4 linked regions of the Homo sapiens genome follow. The protein of the gene in region 1 purifies or fractionates together with the protein of each later gene. This does not show direct contact. Each region holds a gene or a part of one and is shown on either strand. Other genes may lie near its edges. The genes, in order: SMTN, PROZ, P4HA2 and FAM170A.

What was found.
Region 2: the proteins of SMTN (region 1) and PROZ purify together in Homo sapiens (co-immunoprecipitation; one large-scale study listed by IntAct). This does not show direct contact.
Region 3: the proteins of SMTN (region 1) and P4HA2 purify together in Homo sapiens (co-immunoprecipitation; one large-scale study listed by IntAct). This does not show direct contact.
Region 4: the proteins of SMTN (region 1) and FAM170A purify together in Homo sapiens (co-immunoprecipitation; one large-scale study listed by IntAct). This does not show direct contact.

Annotation. Positions count from the first base shown.
Region 1 is NC_000022.11:31,093,719-31,099,236, reverse strand, and holds part of SMTN (smoothelin), read right to left. Parts: intron 5,454-5,518; coding exon of another isoform or gene 5,361-5,453; intron 3,935-5,360; coding exon 3,782-3,934; intron 3,704-3,781; coding exon 3,628-3,703; intron 3,386-3,627; coding exon of another isoform or gene 3,306-3,385; exon of another isoform or gene 2,505-3,305; coding exon 2,340-2,504; intron 2,240-2,339; coding exon 2,177-2,239; coding exon of another isoform or gene 1,969-2,176; coding exon 1,899-1,968; intron 571-1,898; coding exon 397-570; intron 176-396; coding exon 58-175; intron 1-57. UniProt on the Homo sapiens protein: Structural protein of the cytoskeleton.
Region 2 is NC_000013.11:113,164,321-113,169,838, reverse strand, and holds part of PROZ (vitamin K-dependent protein Z isoform 2 precursor), read right to left. Parts: intron 5,327-5,518; coding exon 5,195-5,326; intron 4,838-5,194; exon of another isoform or gene 4,787-4,837; coding exon 4,719-4,786; exon of another isoform or gene 4,656-4,718; intron 3,742-4,655; coding exon of another isoform or gene 3,670-3,741; exon of another isoform or gene 3,600-3,669; intron 38-3,599; exon of another isoform or gene 1-37. UniProt on the Homo sapiens protein: Appears to assist hemostasis by binding thrombin and promoting its association with phospholipid vesicles. Inhibits activity of the coagulation protease factor Xa in the presence of SERPINA10, calcium and phospholipids.
Region 3 is NC_000005.10:132,206,782-132,211,479, reverse strand, and holds part of P4HA2 (prolyl 4-hydroxylase subunit alpha-2 isoform 2 precursor), read left to right. Parts: intron 1-956; coding exon 957-1,196; intron 1,197-2,148; coding exon 2,149-2,342; intron 2,343-3,595; coding exon 3,596-3,772; intron 3,773-4,698. UniProt on the Homo sapiens protein: Catalyzes the post-translational formation of 4-hydroxyproline in -Xaa-Pro-Gly- sequences in collagens and other proteins.
Region 4 is NC_000005.10:119,631,581-119,637,363, reverse strand, and holds the end of FAM170A (protein FAM170A), read right to left. Parts: intron 4,617-5,783; coding exon 4,476-4,616; intron 3,405-4,475; coding exon 2,630-3,404; intron 2,337-2,629; coding exon 2,330-2,336; 3' UTR 2,278-2,329; intron 1,665-2,277; 3' UTR 1,542-1,664; downstream 1-1,541. UniProt on the Homo sapiens protein: Acts as a nuclear transcription factor that positively regulates the expression of heat shock genes. Binds to heat shock promoter elements (HSE).

The sequences.
Region 1 (5,518 bases):
AGGTGTTGAGCTGGGGTCTGGGGAGGCCTCCAGGCCCCCTGGCCTCCCGGGGCTCACCTCGTAGCCGCGAGTCTTGGCTCGACACCAGTCCAGCAGCATCTGCTTGATGCTGTTGGCGTTGGGGACCCCGAAGCTGGTGGATCGCTGCACGGCTGCGCGGGGTCCGCCAGGGCTGCTGTAGGGGCGGTGTCAGGACCAGGTCACACGACTATAAGGGGCATGCCTCGGTGGGCCCACCCAGTGGATCCCAGGCCCCGCCTTCCATGACCTTCGGGCCTTTGCACCACAGATCTAGCCGCGCGGTCTTCCCGCCTCTGCCGGGCCAACTATCAAGCCCCGCCCCCCACTGCCTATCACGCCCCGCCCCCCACTGCCCAGCCCACTTCTGCAGCTCACCCGGCCGCGCCCTCCTTCTCCAGCTTCTCAATCATGGCCTTGCGCGCCTGGGAGGCTGAGGTCTTGGGCAGACTCTGCGCCTTCATCAGCTCTTTCTTCTTCTCGGCCTGCCGTTTCTCGAGCGCCGCCAGGCTGCCGGCCCGTGGGCTGGCCTGGTCCTCGCGGTCGAAGATGCTAGGGGTTGGGGAGGCGCATGTTAGGCAGGGAGAGCAGGGCTGCTCCCCAGCCTGGACCACCACTCGCGAGGAGGAGGGGGGGTCTTGTAGCACACTAGTATCTCCACTGCCACAAACGCCTGCCAGGGAGGGAGGCGTCCTCATCACACGCATTTTAGAGGAGTACACTGAGTCTCAAATGACAGCAAGGTTTTCAACAGGTTTCCGCCTCCCCCTCCCCCACCCACGAGTAGTTCTCTGAGAAGCCTCATTGTACCCTCAAGTTACAGGGGAGTTCAGCTTCTGGGCACTATCCGATAATAAAAATGATGACTAGCATAATAATAGTAATAATAATAATTCATCTCTGTTGATCCTTTCCTGTGTGCCATTTTAAACTTCACAAGAGCAGGGAGGGGCCTTACCAATTCCACTAAAGGTGAGGAAACTGAGACCTCTGGCAGTAACTTGCCTAAGATTTCAGAGGACGTGATGGGCGGAACTAGAACTTGAACAAGGTCTCTCTGATTCAGAGTCTCTGGACCCCTTTGGTTCTCATCCTGGATTCTGATCCTGTTCCTGCTTTCTGCCAGCCCCAACAGCCTCTGTTACATGGGGGTACCCTCCTTTCTCATGGGGCTAAGGTATAAAGGTGCTGTGTGACCTGGGACATGGTTTGCAGATACTGGGAAGTGGCAGTGCCACCAGGCAGCTCAGTGTGGTAGGTAGGCCTCTGTAAGTGTTCAATGCTATTGCAGCCACTCAGAGATGTGAGCCCCTAAGCAACTCACTGGCCTCCCTGAGCATCCACCTCTCCTGTGGTGTGGTTGAGAATAAAATGAGATCCCAAGGAGAGCAGGATCCTTAACTCTCACTTTGCCCCTCCCTGGCTATAGACCTATTACCTCCCAGCATCCCAGTCTACCCCTCTGTTTTATTTATTTATTTATTTATTTATTTATTTATTTATCTATTTATTTTTGAGACTGAGTCTCGCTCTGTTGCCCAGACTGGAGTGCAGTGGAGTGATCTCAGCTCACTGCAACCTCCGCCTCCCAGGTTCAAGTGATTCTTGTGCCTCGGCCTCCCCAGTAGTTGGGATTACAGGTGCCTGCCACCACGCCCGGCTAATTTTTGTATTTTTAGTAGAGATGAGGTTTTACCATGTTGGCCAGGCTGGTCTTGAACTCCTGACCTCAAGTGATCCGCCCACCTCGGCCTCCCAAAGTGCTGGGATTACAGGCAAGAGCCACTGTGCCCAGCCCACCCCTCTGTAAAACGGGTTTGCAGTTAGGTCCCCTGTGGCACTGACTCCTCTATGGTCAGGGATTGGGTGCTGGTGCTCACCTGCCCATCTTCTTGGATGAGGAGGAAGAGGAGAAGGTCTTGGTTTGCATCATGGTGCTGCCACTGCCATCTGCAAAAAAGGGGAAGGGGCACCAGGTGAGGGCCTGGGCTGGACATCAGGAGATGGGATGGGAGGCTGTATGGAGGGGTGGTGATAGCCGCAGGCAGAGAAGAGAAAGTGACGGCACAGTTGAAGACACGGAGAGAGAGCTCAAGGAAGAGCCGGAGGAGGTGGGCGGACAGGCAGGCAGGCACAGGGCGACACCAGGTGGCCTTACTCTCCGAGCGCCTCACGAAACTCGACTCCACTGTGGTGGTGCGGGCCGTCCGTGTGCCATCATCTGCAGGGGCAGGGGATGAGAAGGATGTGAAAGGCACAGGGGGCTGGGGGAGGATGTGTTCCCACCCTGAGCCCTGGGCCGGCCCCATTTGGCCCCTTACTGGAGTGGACGAGCCGCTCAGTCTTGGTAACAGTGCTGACAGCAGAGCCATCAGCTGCCCGCTGGCTGTGCCTCGTGGTGGTCTCAGTGGCTGTGTTGCCGCGCCCCTCCCCTGGCCGGCCCCGTGCCTCCTGCAGCCGCCGTTCCCGCTCCTTGTCCCGCTGGTCTGGGCAGGGGATGCCCCATGCATGCGCAAAAGGGCCACCAACACCCACACAGCACAGATGCACAGGTGCATGGGGCACACAAGACGGGGTGGAGGGTGGCTTGTTAGAAACATGAATGACACAGGTAACAAGGGCCTCTCTAGGAGCAGCTGGGGTGAGGGGACAGCCATAACTTGACAGGGAATGGAGTGTGGGAAGGGTTTGATGGACTCAGGCAGAAACTAGAGAATACGGAGTAGCTAAACTCAAAGGGGTATGGATCCAAAAAGGGTTTCTATAGGCATGAGTAGCTAAGTCAGGAGGGGTATCTAGATCTAGTGAGGGGGTAGCTGAGTCCAAGGAAGGAGAAGCTGAGTGAGGAAGTAGCTGGGTGGGCCATCAGCAGGTCTTTGGTTGGAGGAGAAGAGCAGCTGGAGGCAGGAATATTTAGATCCAGGAAGGGAGCAATTGATGGGATCTGAGAAGCAATCTGATCCAGGGGAAGAGTAGCTGGGAGAGAAGCTAGTGAAGGGGGTTAACTGGGCTTAAAATAGAAGTAGGTGGGTAGAGATAGAGACTGGGGTGGCCATCAGTGGGCCCTGGCAGAAGCAGCTAGATTCAGAGGAGTAATTGAGAGTGTTTGAGAGGAGAAGCAATTGAACCCAGAATCTAAGGGAATGAATAGATGTGTCCAGGGAAGAACTATCTGGGGGAGGAAGTAGTTGTGTCCAGGAAAAGGGAAGCTGGATGGGGCAGAGGCTAAGATGGCCATCAATGGACTTCAGGGAGAGAGGAGCAGCAGGGAGAAGGAGTATCTGGATTCAGGGAAGGAGTCGTTGACAGTACTTTGAGAGGCAACTGGATCCAAGGAGAGAGTAGCTGCGGGAGGGAGTATCTGGGTCTAGGAAGGAGAAGAGAAGCTGGTTGGGGAGAATAACTGGGGTCACCAGCGGGAGAGAAGGAGCTAGGGAAGGAGCAGCTGGATCCAGCAGGGAATAGCCAAGGGAACTGCTGGGTCTAGAGAAGGAGAAGCTGGGTAGGGCAGTTATTAAGCTGGGGTGTCCACAAATGGACCCCAGAGTATGAGGGGAGCAGCTGGGGAATGGGGCAGCTGGATCTAGGGTAGGGCAACTGGCTCTCTACCTCTCTTCCTTTGTCGGAGCTCACGAAGTGCAGCCCGGATGAGCTTCCGCTCTTCAAAGTCCGTGCTCTGATCCAGCTGCATATAGAGCCCATCATTGCCTACCTGGTGCCTGCTGGCCTCTGCCAACCCCCAGCCCACCGGATCTGGCTATACCATCTTGTCCAAGACTCCTTCATCCTCAATAGTCATCAGCTCCTCAGCGCTCAGAGGGCTCCGCCCTTCTGGTGCTTTGTTCACTCGGGTCTGCTCAGCCCCATTGGCCGCTTCCACTGCTGCAGCGAGAGGCTCTGCTGGCTCTGCTTCCATCTGCAGGGTGGGGAGAGGGCATGGACTTTAAGCAGGGGTATGGGTGAAACTCATCATGTCTCCAATGGATAGGGAAGCAGATCCTAGGGTTGCTGGCACGCCTTGGAAATAACCACTAGCCTGCCAGCCTGCCTGCCCAAAGATGGCCATGTCAGCGTCAGTCAGGGAAGAGGCACTGACAGTTTTGTTGTAGGGCTTCCCACGTACCCCGAATTGTATTAATACAATGGATAGTGATAATAATGATGATTTCCAGTCCATAGTAAGTGTTGTATAAACACTAGGGACTTTACTGTCCCTATTTAACAGAAGGGAAGGCCGGGCGCAGTGGCTCATGCCTGTAATGTCAACAGTTTGGGAGGCCGAGGTGGGAGGGATCACTTGTTGCCAGCAGTTTGAGACCAACCTGGGTAACATAGCGAGACCGCATCTCTACAAAAACAAAAATAAAAAATTAGCTAGGCATGGTGGTGTGCACCTGTAGTCCCACCTACTCAGAAAGCTGAGGTAGGAGGATTACTTGAGCCCAGGAGTTAGAGGCTGCAGAGAGCTATGATCATGCAGCTGCACTCCAGTCTGGGCAAGAGAGTAAGACCCTGTTGCAAAGAAAACAAGACCGGAAAAAAAAAAAAAAAAAACAGAAGGGGAAACTGAGGCTCAGGGCAGCTAACTGACTTGCCCACAGTCTCTCTCTAAGTGTGATGCAGCCTGGGATCTGAGCTGAAGGCAGCCTAACTCCTGAACCTTAGTTCATTTTGCTGCTTTGTTCCCAGCCCCCTCCCAGGCAGGCTCTGCTCTGTGCTGCCAGTTCCCGAGGCCTAGGTCCTCCTGGGCCAGTGCCCAGGCAGCACATGTTGCCCCCCATCTGCCTGCTACCTTGCCAAGAGGGCTGGCCCGGGGCCTGTAGGCTCCTGACCAGGTGTCTGACTGGGGCTGCCCTGAGCCAAGACCTCTATGAAGCTCTCCTCTGTACCACCTCCCCCTGCCTCGCCCCTGCTGGAAACCATCCTCTAAGGAGTCTCTAGCCCTGCAGCCCTCCCAGGGCATCTCCCTAGCCCCTTGAAGACAAGGCCCCAAGCCAACTATTATGGCCCTTCCTCTCCTGGCAGGGCCTCTCCGTCTGCTATAAGGGTAAGGAGAGCTGAGGTGGCAGCTGTTTCAGGGAGGCTTGGTCTGGCCAGGGTGCAGGGCGGCAGGGAGCTGGGGGCTGGGGCCTGGGTCATGCCAGGGGCTGCCAAGGCAGCTGCCACACATGCCTCAGGGCTGGAGCCTGGCACCCTCTTGCCCTAGTCTTAGAGCACTAGTGCCCCAGTCCCCTGTCAAGATAGATAAACTGAGGCTCAGAGAAGGTGGTGACATACCTAAAGTCAAGAGGAGGCAGAGCCTGGCTCAAAACTACCCCTCCCACCAACCCAGAAGCACTTACGAGACTAGTGCTGCGGGTGGTGCCGGTGGAGGAGCGGCGGCGGGTGCTGAAGGCAGGTGGGTGGGCCACGGGGGTCCCGGCATCCTCGGCAGCCTGAAAGAGGGCCTCGGGGTCGGCGGCAGCCAGGAGCAGCTCGCTGGGCTCCAGCTCAGGCTCAA
Region 2 (5,518 bases), on another chromosome or scaffold:
TGGTGATCACGTGTACATGGAGACTAATTATGGCCGGGTAAGAACCACCCAAGAGTGTGAGAGGGACCTGTGCTAGACACTCACACAAGCTGGGAATAGCAATTGCTTCCACCAGCTGAGTTAAAACATCCCTGACTCAGTGGGGCACGGGGCAGGATGCATAGAAGGGTTTCACTTCAGTAGTCAGAATAACTAGCTCTAGACTTGAGCGCTGCCCTGGTCCTACTGACAAATCTTAAGAGCAATGTGCCAAAGGATGAAAGTATTTCCAACCTAACTGTGTCCTAGGACAATATCCAAGTGTATGTATAGAGCACAAAATATTCAGCACCTAACAGGATAAAATTCACATGTCTGGAAATCCATTACGGCATACAAACAGGAAAATGTGACCCATAATGAGAAGAAAAATATCCCAAAACTGAGTCAGCACTGACAGATATTAGTAGACAAGGACAATTAAACAGTGATTGTAACTGTAGTCCAAATGTTCAAAAAGTTAAGTAGAGACAAAAATACGTATTTTTAAAAACCTAAATTAAATTTTTGGATGACAGCTACAATATATGAGGTTAAACATCCACTGGCCAGGATGAATGGCAGATTAGACATTGCAGAAGAACAGATTGATGACCTTGAAGGCATCACAACAGAAACTATCAAAAGTAAAACACGGAGAGAACGGAGATTTTTGAAAAATGAACAGACCATCTCTGAGCTATGGGATTTCAAACAGCTTAAGATACATGTAATTAGAGTCCCAAAACAGAGCAGGGAGAAGGAGGAGAGAAAAAAAATCTGAAAATAATGGGCCAGGCATGGTGGCTCACGCCTATAATCCCAGCACTTTGGGAGGCTGAGGTGGAAGGATTGCTTGAGCCCAGGAGTTTGAGACCAGCCTGAGCAACATAGCAAGACCCCATCTCTACATGAAATTTAAAAATTAGCTGTGTGTGGTCGTGCACACCTATGGTCCCAGCTACTCAAGACGCTGAGGTGGGAGGATCACCTGAACCCAGGAGGTTGAGGCTGCAGTGAGCCATGATCACACCACTACACTCCAGCCCAGGCAATAGGGCGAGACCCGGTCTCAAAAAAAAGAAAATTATGACCAAATATTTTTCAAATTTGACAAGCGATATTAGCCCACAAATACAAGAATCTCAACAAACCCTATGTGCAAGAAACATGAAAACAATACACAGTATAATTAAATTCAAAATCCATGATAGAGGAAATCTTAGAAAGTTAAAATTAAAAAGCATTTAAAATCTTAAAAGTGCCACAGGTAAGGACATGTGAGGAACAGCAGCAGGGTGATGGGAGCCGTCTTGTGGCACAAGGCAGACAGGAAGGCAGTGGGGCAGGCCCAAGTGCAGAGAGGAGAGGACTGCTGCCAGCCTGGGGCTCTGCGCCAGACGCAATGCCTTTCATAGATGAAGATGAACAAAGACTCCTCCAGACAAACGCAAGAAGGCTTCTTCCCCAGACGCCTCACAGCACAGCAGATATCAAAGGGGCCCTTTAGGCAGGAGGAAAACGATACCAGAGGGAGGCCTGGATTTACACAAAGCAGCAAGGAACACTGGAAAAGGTTATGACATCCCATTAAATATTTATCCGCATTCCACTATATATGTAAGGTTTTTTTCCTTATTCTTTAAACTTCTTTACAGGATACTGTTTAAACAAAAATAATGGAAGTATAGAGTGGCATTTATAACATCTGTAGATGTAAGACCTATGCCAAAACCAGCACCCAGGTCAGGAGGGGAGGAATGGGGCATGATTGCTGTAAGGACTCATGCTACAGCGAGCGGATGTGGCGTCGGCGAAAGTGGAGTGGACTGTGATAGGGTAAAGATGCATTCTCCAAACTGTGAAGCAACCGCCAACAAAGAACCAGAGATGATAAACCAACAAAGGAGAGAAAACAGAATCATAACAATATATAGTTAATCTAACAGAAGGCAGAAAAAGGGGAAAAGAACAGATAAGAAAAATAAAAGATAGCAAGATGATAGCTTTAACCGTAAACATATCGACAATTACAATAAATGTAAAATGGCCTAAATACCCCAATTAAAAGGCAGAGGTTTTTCACACTGGATAAAAATGAAAGCCAATTATATACTACCTATAAAACATGTACCTTATTTATTTTTTAAACATGCACTTTATAAAAATACAAATAGGCTAAAAGTAGAAGATTGGAAAAAGATAAGTCATGCTAACACTAATAATTAGAAAGTAAAGTGTCTATATCAATATCAGACAAAGGGGATTTTAGAGCAAATAATATTACCAGGGATACAAAAGGAGAAAACGAGAAGTTGTTTGAAAGATTAAATGAAATAAAGCATGTGCCCACATAGCACGGGTACTGGCTCTGGAAGTGTTAAGTGTTGCAGTTTTCAACCGTCTAATGCAAAATGCTGAGCCAAGTGAGAAAGTGTTTTTCCAACTTTACCGTGGCGTCGTTCCTGGAACTCTTCATGTGTTTATGAATAATAGCTGCCACTTGTTGAATACCTACCATAAGTCAAGAACGTTATCTGTAATCCTCACTGCACCTCTAGGGGTGAGATCCTCACTTTAAAGGGGATAAAACCAAGTTCGAGAGAAGACGGCACTTGCGCCATCAGTCTGCCAGACTTTTAGTGATACTTCTTCCCTAGGATGTAAGAAACAAGGAAGTTCTAAAGATAATCTTCAACCCTATGTCCTGCTAGGTCACTTAATTATTCTCCTTTTCAAAGTTTGTTTTAGGAAAATTCCATATATTCAGTTAAATAACTTCAGAACAATTTATAATACTGAAGTAAAAAATCTAATAGTATGTAGCCTGCCTAAGTCAGTGTCCTCTGTCTTAAACACACCAGCTGTGTTTAGAGAATGCCTCCTCCCTGGTTATATGGCTCTTAGCCTTGCTGGTATGAGTGCTACGGTTGCAGACTAGAACCGCACCCTCTCTTCCCTTGGGTAAGCTGGGAAGCTGGAGACAGCCTGCAGGTGGTAGAGCCAGACCCTGTCACTACCTATGGAGGACCACTGCACTCTGGGCCTCCCAAGTACCGACCCTCAGCGCACTCATGGGGCAGACAGCGATAGGAAGAACTGTCTTAGAAAGCTTGGGCAGGAAAAGTGATAAAAGATTGAGAGGAAGTTTGCAAAGCTGGTGATAGACCATTCCCGCTTCCATCCCCGCCTTCCATCACTCCGTCTGCTTTGCCTCCCTTCGGTTTCTTCCTCTCCACCTTGGAGCTGGGTGGCTTCAAGTCCTTGAGCTCCATCCTGTTCTCTGCCAGTCCACACAACTGCCAGAATGAGTGGGCTGGGCACAGCTGTCTTGTAAGAGTCGGGTGAAACTGACGGGTGTCACACACAGAAACCTCAGGGGCTTATTACTCACAAGGGGGGCCCCTGAGGCTGTGCCATCCACACGGCAGCCACACTCGGGTACGGAGCATTGTGGACACGAGGGCTGCACCTCAGTGTAAATTCACACCAGATTCCAAAGATTCAGTGTAAAGGAAAAAGGCAAATAACCTCAATAATGTTTATATTCATTACATGGGGAAATAATGACACATATTGGGTTAAATATCCAAATTTCACATGCTTTTACTTACATTATTGTGGCTACTAGAAAATTTTAAATTATGTGGTTTACACTGCATTTCTATTGGACAAGGCTGTTCTGAAGGATATACTCAGGCAGGAGATAATTGTGTTAGAGGCCTGAAAGGCAAGGAAAGTGGAAAATGAGGTAAGTAAATCAAAGCCAGTGTGGGTGGTATAAAACCATAATAACAAAAATCGTAATATCTATTTTGTGAAGATATACAGAAAGCAAGAAAAGAATAAAATACTGGCCAGACAGCAAATGGACCCAGAATGAGGTGCTGGGAATTAGCCTGAGGAGGGAGAAATAGCTGACTACTTGTGCTAAATATGGATGTTTATGTGTCAAGAGTGACCATTAAGTAAACAGAAAGTGAATGATGAGGCCAGGCGTGGTGGCTCACGCCTGTAATCCCAGCACTTTGGGAGGCCAAGGCAGGTGGGTCACTTGAGGTCAGGCATTCGAGACCATCCTGTCCAACATGGTGAAACCCCGTCTCTACTAAAAATATAAAAATCAGCCGGGCGTGGTGGCACATTCCTGTAATCCCAGCTACTCAGGAGGTGGAGGCAGGGAAAGCGCTTGTGCCCAGGAGGCAGAGGTTGCAGTGAGCCGGGACTGGACCACTGCACTCCAGGCTGGGTGACAGATTGAGACTCCATCTCAAAAAAAACAAACCAAAAACAAATGAATGGTTAACTTCTAAACCAGCCAAGGAGGGGAAAAGGAGAACAAAAATGAATGCCAAACTAGAGAAATTTAGTGAACAAAGTAACAAAGCTAGAATGCCAGGCCAGCAGCCGAGAGCAGAGATTTTGAGATGCTTATGTTCTGAGAAAATGACATTGGTAACAGTTTGGAACTGCAGAGGAAAGGTCTTGGGGGCTGTAAATAATGCTGTCCTTTTGTATTAGTTATGAACTCGGCATTAGAACATGGTTGGAAGTGTGAATAGAGGTTGGTCAGTGCAGTCAGTAGCCCATCAAAGTCAGGATGCCTGATTCACTTAGTTGTCAACATTTCTATTTAGGAAATGACAAGTGAGGTGAAAGTCATAACAATAAATTGAAGCACGCGGAGAGCGCTCTGTTACCTGCCACGGGAGGTCCTGTAGATCCGGTGCACGCTTCTCAGAGGTCAGCACCCCGCAGGCACACTGGTCTGCATTTGCGGCAGCAACATGAGAATAAAAATCAGCGCCTTCTCAGCGAATATCGGACTCTGTCTATGGTGTTAACCGTTGCATAATTCCGTCTATGGTACTAACCATTATAATCTTATCCTTAATGCTGATGAATGTGCAGTAATTCACAGACACACAGACTGGAGTTAAACCACCCCTCACAGCACTCATGGTTTAGCTCAGAGTGGTCCGAGCAAGCACTAGTGACAGAAACTGCACTTTCTAGCATGGCCATTGCTCCAGCGTGGAGACGCGGACCACCTTCTGAGTCGTGGCAACTGCTTATCACAAATCCGCGGGCTTCACCCAGTACTACAGAAGGAAGGAGGATGTGGACGGGGTCGCTGGCATTGGAAGCTGGAGGCCGCTGTGGTCTGAGCACTCACCGTGGGGCACACACTGTTTGTGGTCCTCACCAAGCCTGTAGCCCTGAGCACAGCTGCATGTGTAGGATTCCTGTCCTGGGAGGCAGAAGTGTTGACACCCATCAGTCCGCTCTGGGTGACATTCATTTTTAGCTGAAAAGGAAAAAAAAAAAAGGAAATGCTAGCTTGGAAATAGTCATTTTATCACAGCCTTGCACACAGTTCTGTGTGTTGGTCCATGTTCATTTTATCACAGCCTTGCACACAAGAGTTCTGGTGTGTTGGTCCATGTGTTCTCATTCTCTTCAGATCGTTGTCCTCTGTGTCAGTGTTTCCCACATGTCC
Region 3 (4,698 bases), on another chromosome or scaffold:
GCAGAAAGAGCCTTCTCTGAGTTCTTTTGTGTCAGCCATGCCCAGGTTGCTGTTAATGGGGCTGTGGGGAGTCTTCCTTGCTTTCCAGGGAGAGTCACAGCCCCCACTTCCCCTCCATGGTATCTGCTTTCTCATTATTCTCTGAGGAACCACACACATAGTCTTTCCCATCTTGAGCTCACCCTAAATCCTGCATCTCCCTATAGCTGCTTCTTCATATTGGCTTGAAACTATCTTCATGGTCACTTTCCAGCACTCCCTCTACAGCAGATGACCTTTGGTCATAAGACCCACTGAACTGATACTCAGCAAGGTCCCTGCCACTTAACAGCCAAAGCTGGCACTGCAACCTTGGCTCTTGGCCTCCCTTGGTGTCTCTCACACCACTCCCGCTCCCTCTGTTTCTCCTATCTTTAGTTCATTCTCAGGGTTATTCATTGTCTGTTCTTTCTGGGTAGGTGCTCCCTGGAGCTCTGGCCTTAGTCATCTTCTCCATTCTTTCCTCAGAGTTCCTGCAAGCTATTTTCCTCACCCATGGCTTGGTTGCCACCTAAATTTATGTTTTTTATATTCAGCTAATTTTTCCATCCTCTAGACTCATATGGCAAACTGCCCACCAGACATCTTCTTCTCTGTGGTCCACAGGACCTTCCCACTGTCCTCAACAATGCTTCCTGGTGGGTTTCTGGGGCTCCCCCTAAAAAGGCCCCTTCCCACTTGGGAGATGGGGAATCTGAGGCTAAGAGGTGGCTGTGAACCCCAGTCCAGGGCAGGGCTGGGCCATCTGTCTGTGCTCACTGTGTCAGTGGCCCTTTAGGATATGCAGTCTAAATGTCCGATGGAGTTCTGCTTGGTGATGCCCCCTATCCAGTGGCTCAGGCTTTCCTTGAAGTGGGAATCTCTTTCCCTAATCCAGAGGCTCTTTGGAGCCTGACAATTTACTTCCCCTGCTGTAGGAACCAAGTACCAGGCAATGCTGAGTGTGGATGACTGCTTTGGGATGGGCCGCTCGGCCTACAATGAAGGGGACTATTATCATACGGTGTTGTGGATGGAGCAGGTGCTAAAGCAGCTTGATGCCGGGGAGGAGGCCACCACAACCAAGTCACAGGTGCTGGACTACCTCAGCTATGCTGTCTTCCAGTTGGGTGATCTGCACCGTGCCCTGGAGCTCACCCGCCGCCTGCTCTCCCTTGGTAAGGAGATTCTAGGGGAAGGTAAGATGGGAATGGAGAGTGGCAGAGGAACTGCACTGTGCTGGCATCTGCCTGACCCCTCTCCTGGGACTGAGTCAGTTTACCCTGTCACTTGGCCAGTGACTAATGCCTTACTGACTTTAGGACCAGTCCAGCTTCTTACTAGCTCCTTACCCACCTCAATCCTGGCCTTAGGTTTGCGCAGTCGCTGATAGATACGCTCAGGCCTGTGGCACTTGTGGGCCTTTTTAATAAGGACTCTGTTATGGTGTATCTGTCACCATGCAGGACTACACAGGGTGGAACCTTTACTACATCAGGAGCAGCTCAGGAGTCAGGTTGTACTTTAGGATTGTTACAGTGACAAACAGTAGCGGTGCTATTAGAGGCCTGAGGTCTAATAGTAGGACTTCATATGGCATTGATACTTTGTGTGCCTTGTGCTGTTGGACTGAAGAAGGCCAAAAGCACTGTGCCTTTAAAACTCATCTACCTTTTTTTTTTTTTTTTTTTGAGACAGAGTCTCACTCATCCAGCCTGGAGAGCAGTGGCACGATCTCAGCTCACTGTAACCTCCGCCTCCCGGGTTGATGAGATTTTCCTGCCTCAGCCTCCCAGGTGGCTGGGATTACAGAGGCACATGCCCCATGTTGTATTTTCTTTAGTAGAGATGAGGTTTTACCATGTTGGTCAGGCTGGTCTCGAACTCGTGACCTCACGTGATCCACCCGCCTCGGCCTCCCAAAGTGCTGGGATTGCAGGTATGAGCCACCGCACCTGGCCTCTGTTGGTTTTCCAGTTACGACCAGCGTACTCTGGTTAGATGCTGTGGAAGGTAGAATGCAGCATGCAGGTGAGCTGCTGGGAGAGAAACCCTTACAGAATAATTTCTCTAAATGACCTAACAGATGTTTGTGGTTTCCTTTTCCTTCTCATTCCTTGCATTTTCTAGACCCAAGCCACGAACGAGCTGGAGGGAATCTGCGGTACTTTGAGCAGTTATTGGAGGAAGAGAGAGAAAAAACGTTAACAAATCAGACAGAAGCTGAGCTAGCAACCCCAGAAGGCATCTATGAGAGGCCTGTGGACTACCTGCCTGAGAGGGATGTTTACGAGAGCCTCTGTCGTGGGGAGGGTGTCAAACTGGTGAGATGTGTGAGGGGGCTAGGGTGCCAAAGCTGTGGACCTGGACTCTGGCTCTGGGCAGGCAGATTTGGGGAAGGTGTTCTTTATTCTGTAGGTACTTTTCTCAGTATATCCCCCAGTTTTTCATGGCATCTCCTGAGGCTGACATGTGGATATTCTCTGAGGTGTAGGAAAGGAGACTCTCTCCCCTCGTGCCCCAGGTAGAGTGTTGCTCCTCTAAGTTACCAGTGAGCTCGCCTCCTTACCCCAATATGTCCCACTTTTTGCTTCACTCACTGTTGGGAAGAAAACAATGGGTGGACGTACCTCAGGCCCCAAAAGAAGTCATGGTATAAGTGGAGAGTAAGTCTCTGTGGTAAAGACACCAGCGTGTACTAGAGCTTGGTATCGAGCCTTTGAGAGCCCTGGGATCCTAGTGCTTCCTGAGGAGGCCCAGGTGTGACAGGCTCTGAGCCTTTTCCATGCCCCTGTCTGCATGGCTTCTACTGGCTCCTCCACCAAGAAAGGTTTCTCCCCTGTCCCAGCCCTTCAGACCTACTCAAGTCTTCACGAAAAGGGTCAGGAATTACTTTCTGCCATGGGACTTGAGGATGTGAGGTGATTTTGGGAGAGAAGAAAAATTGCATGATTTGTGGGGTGTTATTTCATGCCAGTTAAGCTGAAGGGGCTCTCCTCTCCTCTCCCCTCCCCCCATTCCCCCCTCTCCTCCCCTCCCCCCCTCCCCTCCCCCTCCCCTCCCCCTCCCCTCCCCCTTCTCCTCCTCTCTCCTCCCCTCCCTCCCTCCCTTCCTTTCTTCCTTCCTTTTTCTTCTCTTTTTCCTGTTTCCTCTTTTTCCTTTTCTTTTCTTTCTTTCGTCTCACCCTGTCGCCCAGGCTGGTGTGCAGTGGTATAATCATAGCTCACTGCAGCTTTGACCTCCCAGCCTTGAGCAATCCTCCTGCCTCAGTCTCCTGAGTAGCTGGGACTACAGGTATGCACCATCATGCCTGGCTAATTTTTTAGAGACAGGTCTATGTCATCTAGGCTGGTCCCAAACTCCTGGTCTCAAGCTATCCTTTGGCCCCCCAGAGTTCTCGGATTACAGGCATGAGCCACTGTGCATGCCCACCTGCTGGGACTTTTGTTTTCTTCTGTGGTGTGGTGGGAGGGAGCAGCTGCTGGCCATGAGGTGAGTCCAGTGTCTGCAGACAGCCAGACTGGGACCGAGGATTAGGACTCACTCAGCTCAGGGCCTGTTACTCTGTGCTTTCCAGACACCCCGTAGACAGAAGAGGCTTTTCTGTAGGTACCACCATGGCAACAGGGCCCCACAGCTGCTCATTGCCCCCTTCAAAGAGGAGGACGAGTGGGACAGCCCGCACATCGTCAGGTACTACGATGTCATGTCTGATGAGGAAATCGAGAGGATCAAGGAGATCGCAAAACCTAAAGTAGGTGTCACTGTAGGTCCTTCTCGGGTCACTGAAGGGGGAAGGTCCTTTTTCTCATCCCTAGCACTATGGGTGGTTGGTTTGCCCATCTAGCCACCCTTTATCCATATCTAGCATGGGCCTACCGTGGGGATACAGAGATGCTTCAGACTCAGCCTGACCTTGTGAGTTCATGGTCCAGTGGAAGAAGAACAGGGTAACCAATGTGGACAGCCAAGTGCTATCATAGAAGGTCACGCTGGGAACAGGGCAGGTCTACACTGGTGTGTCAGTTCACCTGGTTGGGAGACTGGTGCGTGGGTGAGTTTTTTGGAAATGTTCCATAGGATGCTATGAAGCTGGGTCCTGTGGAGCTCCTGATTAGGACTGTAAATGAGGTGAATGACTTAGAGGAGAATGTATATCTTTATAATATTGGGTCTTCTCATCCAAGGGCATGACAGGTCTCTCCATATCTTTTTAAGTTTTCTTCATATAAGCCTTGAACATTTCTTAAGTTTATTCCTTGGTAGTTTCTTTGTTACTGTTAATTTACTTTATTTCTTCATTATTATTTTTAACTGGTTACATTATTTTATTAGTTTACTATTATATGCCAAACTATTGATTTTACAAATACATTTCATAGTAAGAGCTAATGTTTACTGAATTCTTAACTGTGGCAGGAACTTCTAAGTGCTTAACATATATATTAAGTGTTATGTCACAGTTATGAACAGCTGCTCATAATGATGTCACTGTCTCTGTTTTACCTATGAAAAAGCAAACTCATACAGATTGCAGCTAGTGGTTGAATTTACTTATTTCTTTTTTGGTTTTTAGCTGATTTCTCTTTGGTTGCCTGGATAGCATTAACACCTGGAAATAAGGAAAATTTTATTTTCTCCTGATACTTGTAGTTCCTTTGTTTTTATAACCTTATTGAA
Region 4 (5,783 bases), on another chromosome or scaffold:
TGCATCAAACCCACATAAAATTCAACAATCATTCTCACCTTTTTTTAAAAATTAGGTTATTTTTATGGTCACTATTATTTTATATTGTACCAGAGGTCCTAGCCTGTTCAGTAACAGAAGAAAAATAAAAGTGCCGTCTAGAAATAAAAAGGAAAAAACTAATTCTTTTTATTTGTATTTAATATGATTGAATATAGAAAAATACAGAATACTATATAGAAATACTTACACCTGAAAAATTTCAAAAAGGTTGCTAGATGTGAAATGAAAATTTAAAATATGCATCAGTAATAACCAATTCTAAGATATAATAGAAAAAACATACCATTTACAAGGAGAATGAAAAGAAAAGATATCTTGGACTGCATCGAATAAAAATTGTATATAACATTTGTGCAGAAAAGCATTAATCATTATTGAAGAATGAAGAAAGAAAAAAAATGCTTGAACAAAGAAAGAAATACACCACGGCAGTAACTACTAAACTGAAATATCTATATAATTCAGCACAGCAATGGATGTCTGGGTATACATTCTAGAGAGAGACACACATTCTGTGGTAATAGAGGAAATTTGGATGCAACTGAAATTTCATCAAAAAGACAATAAATAAAAAGTTGGCATATTCATAGAATGAACTATAATACAGTAGTAAAAATTAGTTAACTACAGATATGTGTATGACAATGGATAATCTTAAAAACCTGTTTTTTAATAAAAACAAGTTGAAAACTAATAATGAAGTACAATAGTATGTGAAACTTTCAAGATATTCAAAACACTTTATATATTTATATAATAGTATAAAACATGCACAGAAGTATTAAAAAATACTCAAAATCCATATGTAAGGCAATGGAACAGGGGACTATGGCTGTATTTGTAATCATTTTTACTTCAAAGCCATCTGAAGCAAACGTAGAAAAATGCTAAGCTTAATAAAGCGGGATGATGGAAACATAGGTATGTAGTGGAGTTTGTCATGGTCTCATATGAAATGTGATATCCAGCCTTGAAAAAATTGTCACACAGAAGTCTAATCAAACCCAGGAGCTTGGCTATTGCTGCCTCTGGAAAAGGCTGGTAGATATCTTTAGTGCTGATGTAAAACTTCGTTCACAAACCACTGGAGAGATAGATGAAAATAATGAATAGGGCTGGGCGCCGTGGCTCACGCCTGCAAACCCAGCACTTTGGGAGGCCCAGGCGGGTAGAACACTTGAGCCCAGGAGTTCGAGACCAGCCTGACCAACATGGTGAAACCTCATCTCTACTAAAAAAATACAAAATTAGCTGTGTGTGCTGGCACATGCCTGTAATCCCAGCTACTTGGGAGGCTGAGGCAGGAGAATCACTTTAATTCAGGAGGCAGAGGTTGCAGTGAGCCGAGATCATGCCATCGCACTCCAGCCTGGGCAACAAAAATGAAACTCCATCTCAAAAAAAAAAAAAGAAGAAGAAGAAGAAAAAGAAAAAGGAAAAAAAAAGAAAATGATGAATAGATAGGTAGATTAATTTGTTAATTAAATAATATATCCAGGTAAGGTTTGAAACACAACCTTTATTACGTATGATGTTTACATGTTAGACTGAGTGCTGGTCCCTCATCTGCTTCATACCTTGGGCAGCCTGTCTGCTACTATCTCCATGGCTCTTTCTTCTCCCTGGAAGTGAAGAAAACAATTGAGGCAGAAGAGGAAGAGGCAAGAAACAATACAAGCATTGCTAGTCAGTTACCCTTCACCTTTGTTTTGAAGCTCAGAGTCATGCAACCCACAGTGAGTTCATTTCCAGATCAAATGCAGCAAAATGAAGGTTCTGAAACATTTCCAGTTCTCTTGGTGTCTCATCAGGATGATGTTGTTACCTCTCCAAATTCCCCTTTTCCCCAAGGGCTATATCTATGGGCTCAGGTGGGATCCCAGCTCAGGCCAAAGGCTCTCAGACTCCACACCTCTGATCTTGCTGGCATCCTGTCCTTTCAGGCCAATCCTGGCCCTTGAGGTTACACTGAGCTTCCGCTGCCTAGAAGAGCTGCAGCACCTCCTCTTAGAATTGAGGACAATCATGCAGACATTGAGAAAGTTCCCAGTCAATGCTCTTCACCTTGTCATCTAAGCAAATGGAGGACAATTCCCCCAGAAGCACCAGGTGCACGATAAGTTGATGTGGCTGCAGAGCCACCAGGTGACCCAGTGCATCCCTGCAGCTCCTTCCCTTGGATTCCTCTGGGCCCTCACAACACAGCCTCAGAAAACTGCAAGTCTCACTCCTTACCTCTTGCAAGAGAAGGCCACACCATCTTCCAGTATCTTCTGGCCCATAAGTCTCAGCTGCTGTGTGAAAATCAAACCAAAGAAAGACACTTCTTAGTTAATGCGACTTTTGAAATTCTCAGAATTTCCTGCAGGAGCTGGAAAGGTCAAGACAAATCCTGACTTACAATCGAGACTTTATTAGATGCCTAGGCAAGAAGCAGGGATCCCAGTTATGTCCCCCTCCATTGTTCCCTGAGCCAATAAAGCCCCCAAATCTTCCTTACAGAGACCTAAGCCTGAACTGGGGAGACAGTACTGGCTCGGGGAAGCCATTGCTCCCTCAGCAGACCCACAACCCAGGCTTTGCTCACTTCCTGTCCTTTGGAGAATGAAACACACAGCCTGGACATTGGCTCCAGGATCTCCTCAGGCCAAGGTCTTCTTCTGTGGGCTGCCCCTCCTCCTCCTTTGCTTCTGGTTTCTCTTCCTCCTCCTTCTCATTTCCATTTTCCTCCTCCTGCTCATCTTGGGTGCTCTCTGATTCCATGTTGCCTGTCAGCTGAGCCATGGTGAGATGAAAGACGTGGCAGCTGAAGCCCTCTCTGATCCCAAACTGCACATGCTCCTGGAGGGCTTCCATGGTGGTGAACACCCGGCAGCAGGCCATGCACCTGAAGCCGTTCTCCATGGTCACCAGCCAGTCAGGAGTCTTGGCTCTGGGTGTGTCCTCAACGGTGGGTGAGCCTGGCAGGCTGTCTGATTCTGTCCTTTCCTCATGCTCTTTCTCCTCCCCACTGGGCTCACTGTCAGACAGGAGGTTTCTGGTGGACACATCAGAGGGGGGAGTACCTACCCTCACAACCTCAGAAAGGGTCACTTCTTCCATCCTTGGCTGCTTTTCTAAGGACTCCAAAGTTTCCTCTGTCTCCCAGGAGACAGCCACACCTTTGTTCATTTGTACCTGCATGTAGTATATTTTCATGCCCCTTTCCTCTTTGTTTACACACAGAGAGGACACACAAGTCTTATAGGATGAATAGGACGACAAGGAGACATGTTGTGAGCGGGGAGGAGTCTCTCCTCGTTCCTGAACCTGGGCCAGGGGTGATTGAGGCTGGGGGCTGTCTCGATGTATTCTCTGGATTCCTGGGAAAGGAAATTAGAAACATGAGCAGATGCATGGGCCATGCTAGGAGCTGAGGGAACGTAAGTTAAATATGTGTGGTGCAGGAGACAGGGACTGTGGTGAGATGCAGCTGTGTAGTGAGCTTGGTATTTGTTGTTCATATTGTGGGGTAGTGATTCTAGTGTCATTTGCGTGTAGGGATGTTGGTGGGGTGTCCATATACAGGGGTGTGGAGTATGGTGGTGAGGACTGCAGCATATGTGGAATGTCGGCAGCATGTGTGTGCTATGAGGATGTGAGTTGGTGCCATCATTGATGTGTTATTTGTGGAATGTGGGAGGTAGTGTGGGAGAATGGCACTGCAGGTCATGCATTTGGGTGGTGTGTGTGCAGAAAGTGTACCTGTGGAGCGTGTGGCTGTATGTGTGAGGTGTGTGGGCCTGAGCTAGAGTCCCGCTGCAGTGCTGGAGGCCTGGGCTGAGGAAATCTGTCTTTCTCTGGAAGGCAAAGGCAGAGCCCAAATAGTTCCGATGAAAGTGCTTAATCTGGTCCTGTGGCCCTACACCCCAACAGCAGACTTTTCTGGCCTCTGCTCCCTGACTGCCTGACTGCACACCAGGGCTCATGCTCTCCTACACTGAGCTTATATCCATGCTCTTCTAACAGCTCTGTCATCTTGCCCAGACACCTCTGCAGAGCTCTGATCATATCCAACTGCCCTGGGTTTCTTCTTAGCCTCATCCTTGGATCTATGGGCCTCCTGCCCCCTACCCAAGGAGCCCTGCACCCAATCCCATGCCTAAGGAGTCCAGCACCCAAAGAGTCACATACCCATAGCGCCCTGCATCCAGAGTCTCATGCTCAAGGAACCTCACACCCAGAGAATGTCACATCCAAGGAGCCCCACACCCAAAGACTGTCACACCGAAGGAGCCCCAAACCCAAAAAGCCCCACTCCCAAAGAGTCTTACACCCAAGCAGCACTGCAACCAAAGAGTCTCATGCCCACAGAGCCCCACACTCAAATATTTTCATGCCCAATGAACCCCACAGCCAAGGAGCCACGTGCCGAAGGAACCCTGCACCCTTACCACTGTGGATGAGCTTGCGTGAAGAAGAAACGCAGGAGCAGTATTCGGAGGTAGAAGTAACTTCTCCCACCCCTTGGCTCCAGCCTTTGGCCACTCTAGTGGATCCAGGCTGCAGGGCATCCTCTTGGGACTTTGACATTCCTGAGAAAGGTATGAAGGGAACAGAGATATGATGGATGGGTAATGTTTGTGCATCATTTACCATCCAACAAATATTTACTGAGTGGCTGACCTATGTCAGGTGTAGTGAACACACATGGTTTGTGAGACAGGCTTCTGGTGGATACTCCAGTATTTAATTACAGTCAACAGGTATTTTGATAGTGTATCAATAGGAACATAGGCCTGTGTGGTGACTATGAGTACGTCTGAAGCGTAAGAGTGATACATACCAGATAGCCTTTGATATGTGTAGATTTGTGTGGGTATATTGTAGAAACATGTGTCTGTGTCTGTGGAGTTTGTGTGCATAGTTTTGTGTTTACAACCCTGAAATTATGCAATATGTAATTTTTCCTGATTGTATGGTGTGGCTTGTATTTATAATGTACATTAATTCATTCATCTGGCAATATTTTCATGAACAGCTACCATGAATCAGACACCAGTCCACTCTTCTAGGCTCTAGGAATACTGAACAAAACAGTCCTTCTTCTAAGTGGACTTTCCATTCTAGACAAGGAAGACAGACATTAAGCAGAAATATATAAGTATATCATAGGTCAGCTCATTATGAATTTATAAGGGTCATCAGATTTAGCAAACAAAAATAGCTGATGCCAAGTTAAATTTGAATTTTAGATAAATTACAAATAATTTTTTTAGCGTAAGTATGTCCCGTGCAATATTTGTCATACTTATTTTTAGTGTCAGTATGTTCCATAAAATATTTGGGACACACTTATACTAAAAAATCATTGGTGGTTTATCTGATATTCAAGTTTAACTGAACATCCTGTATTTTATCCGGCAACCCTAATAAGGGGATGGTGGTGAATCTTTGTTTCGTTGTGGTCTATGCAAAGCAGGCCTGGCTCTGCTACACAATGTGTTGCAGATATGGCATGTATGATGTGTGACTGGCTCTTAAAGAGGTATTTAGAGATAGTTTAACATAGATGTGTTTGTGTGAGAGTTGAGGAGACACACACACACACTCCCCACACACAAGAAATCTCTGTAGGAAGAAAAGACTGTCACACACATGGGTTGTGTGAGTATGTAATAGAGGAACGGTATGTGTATATAACTATATCCACTGTGTGTGGAGGTGTGTGACTCTTTCTCTGTATCAGAGTATATATGGGC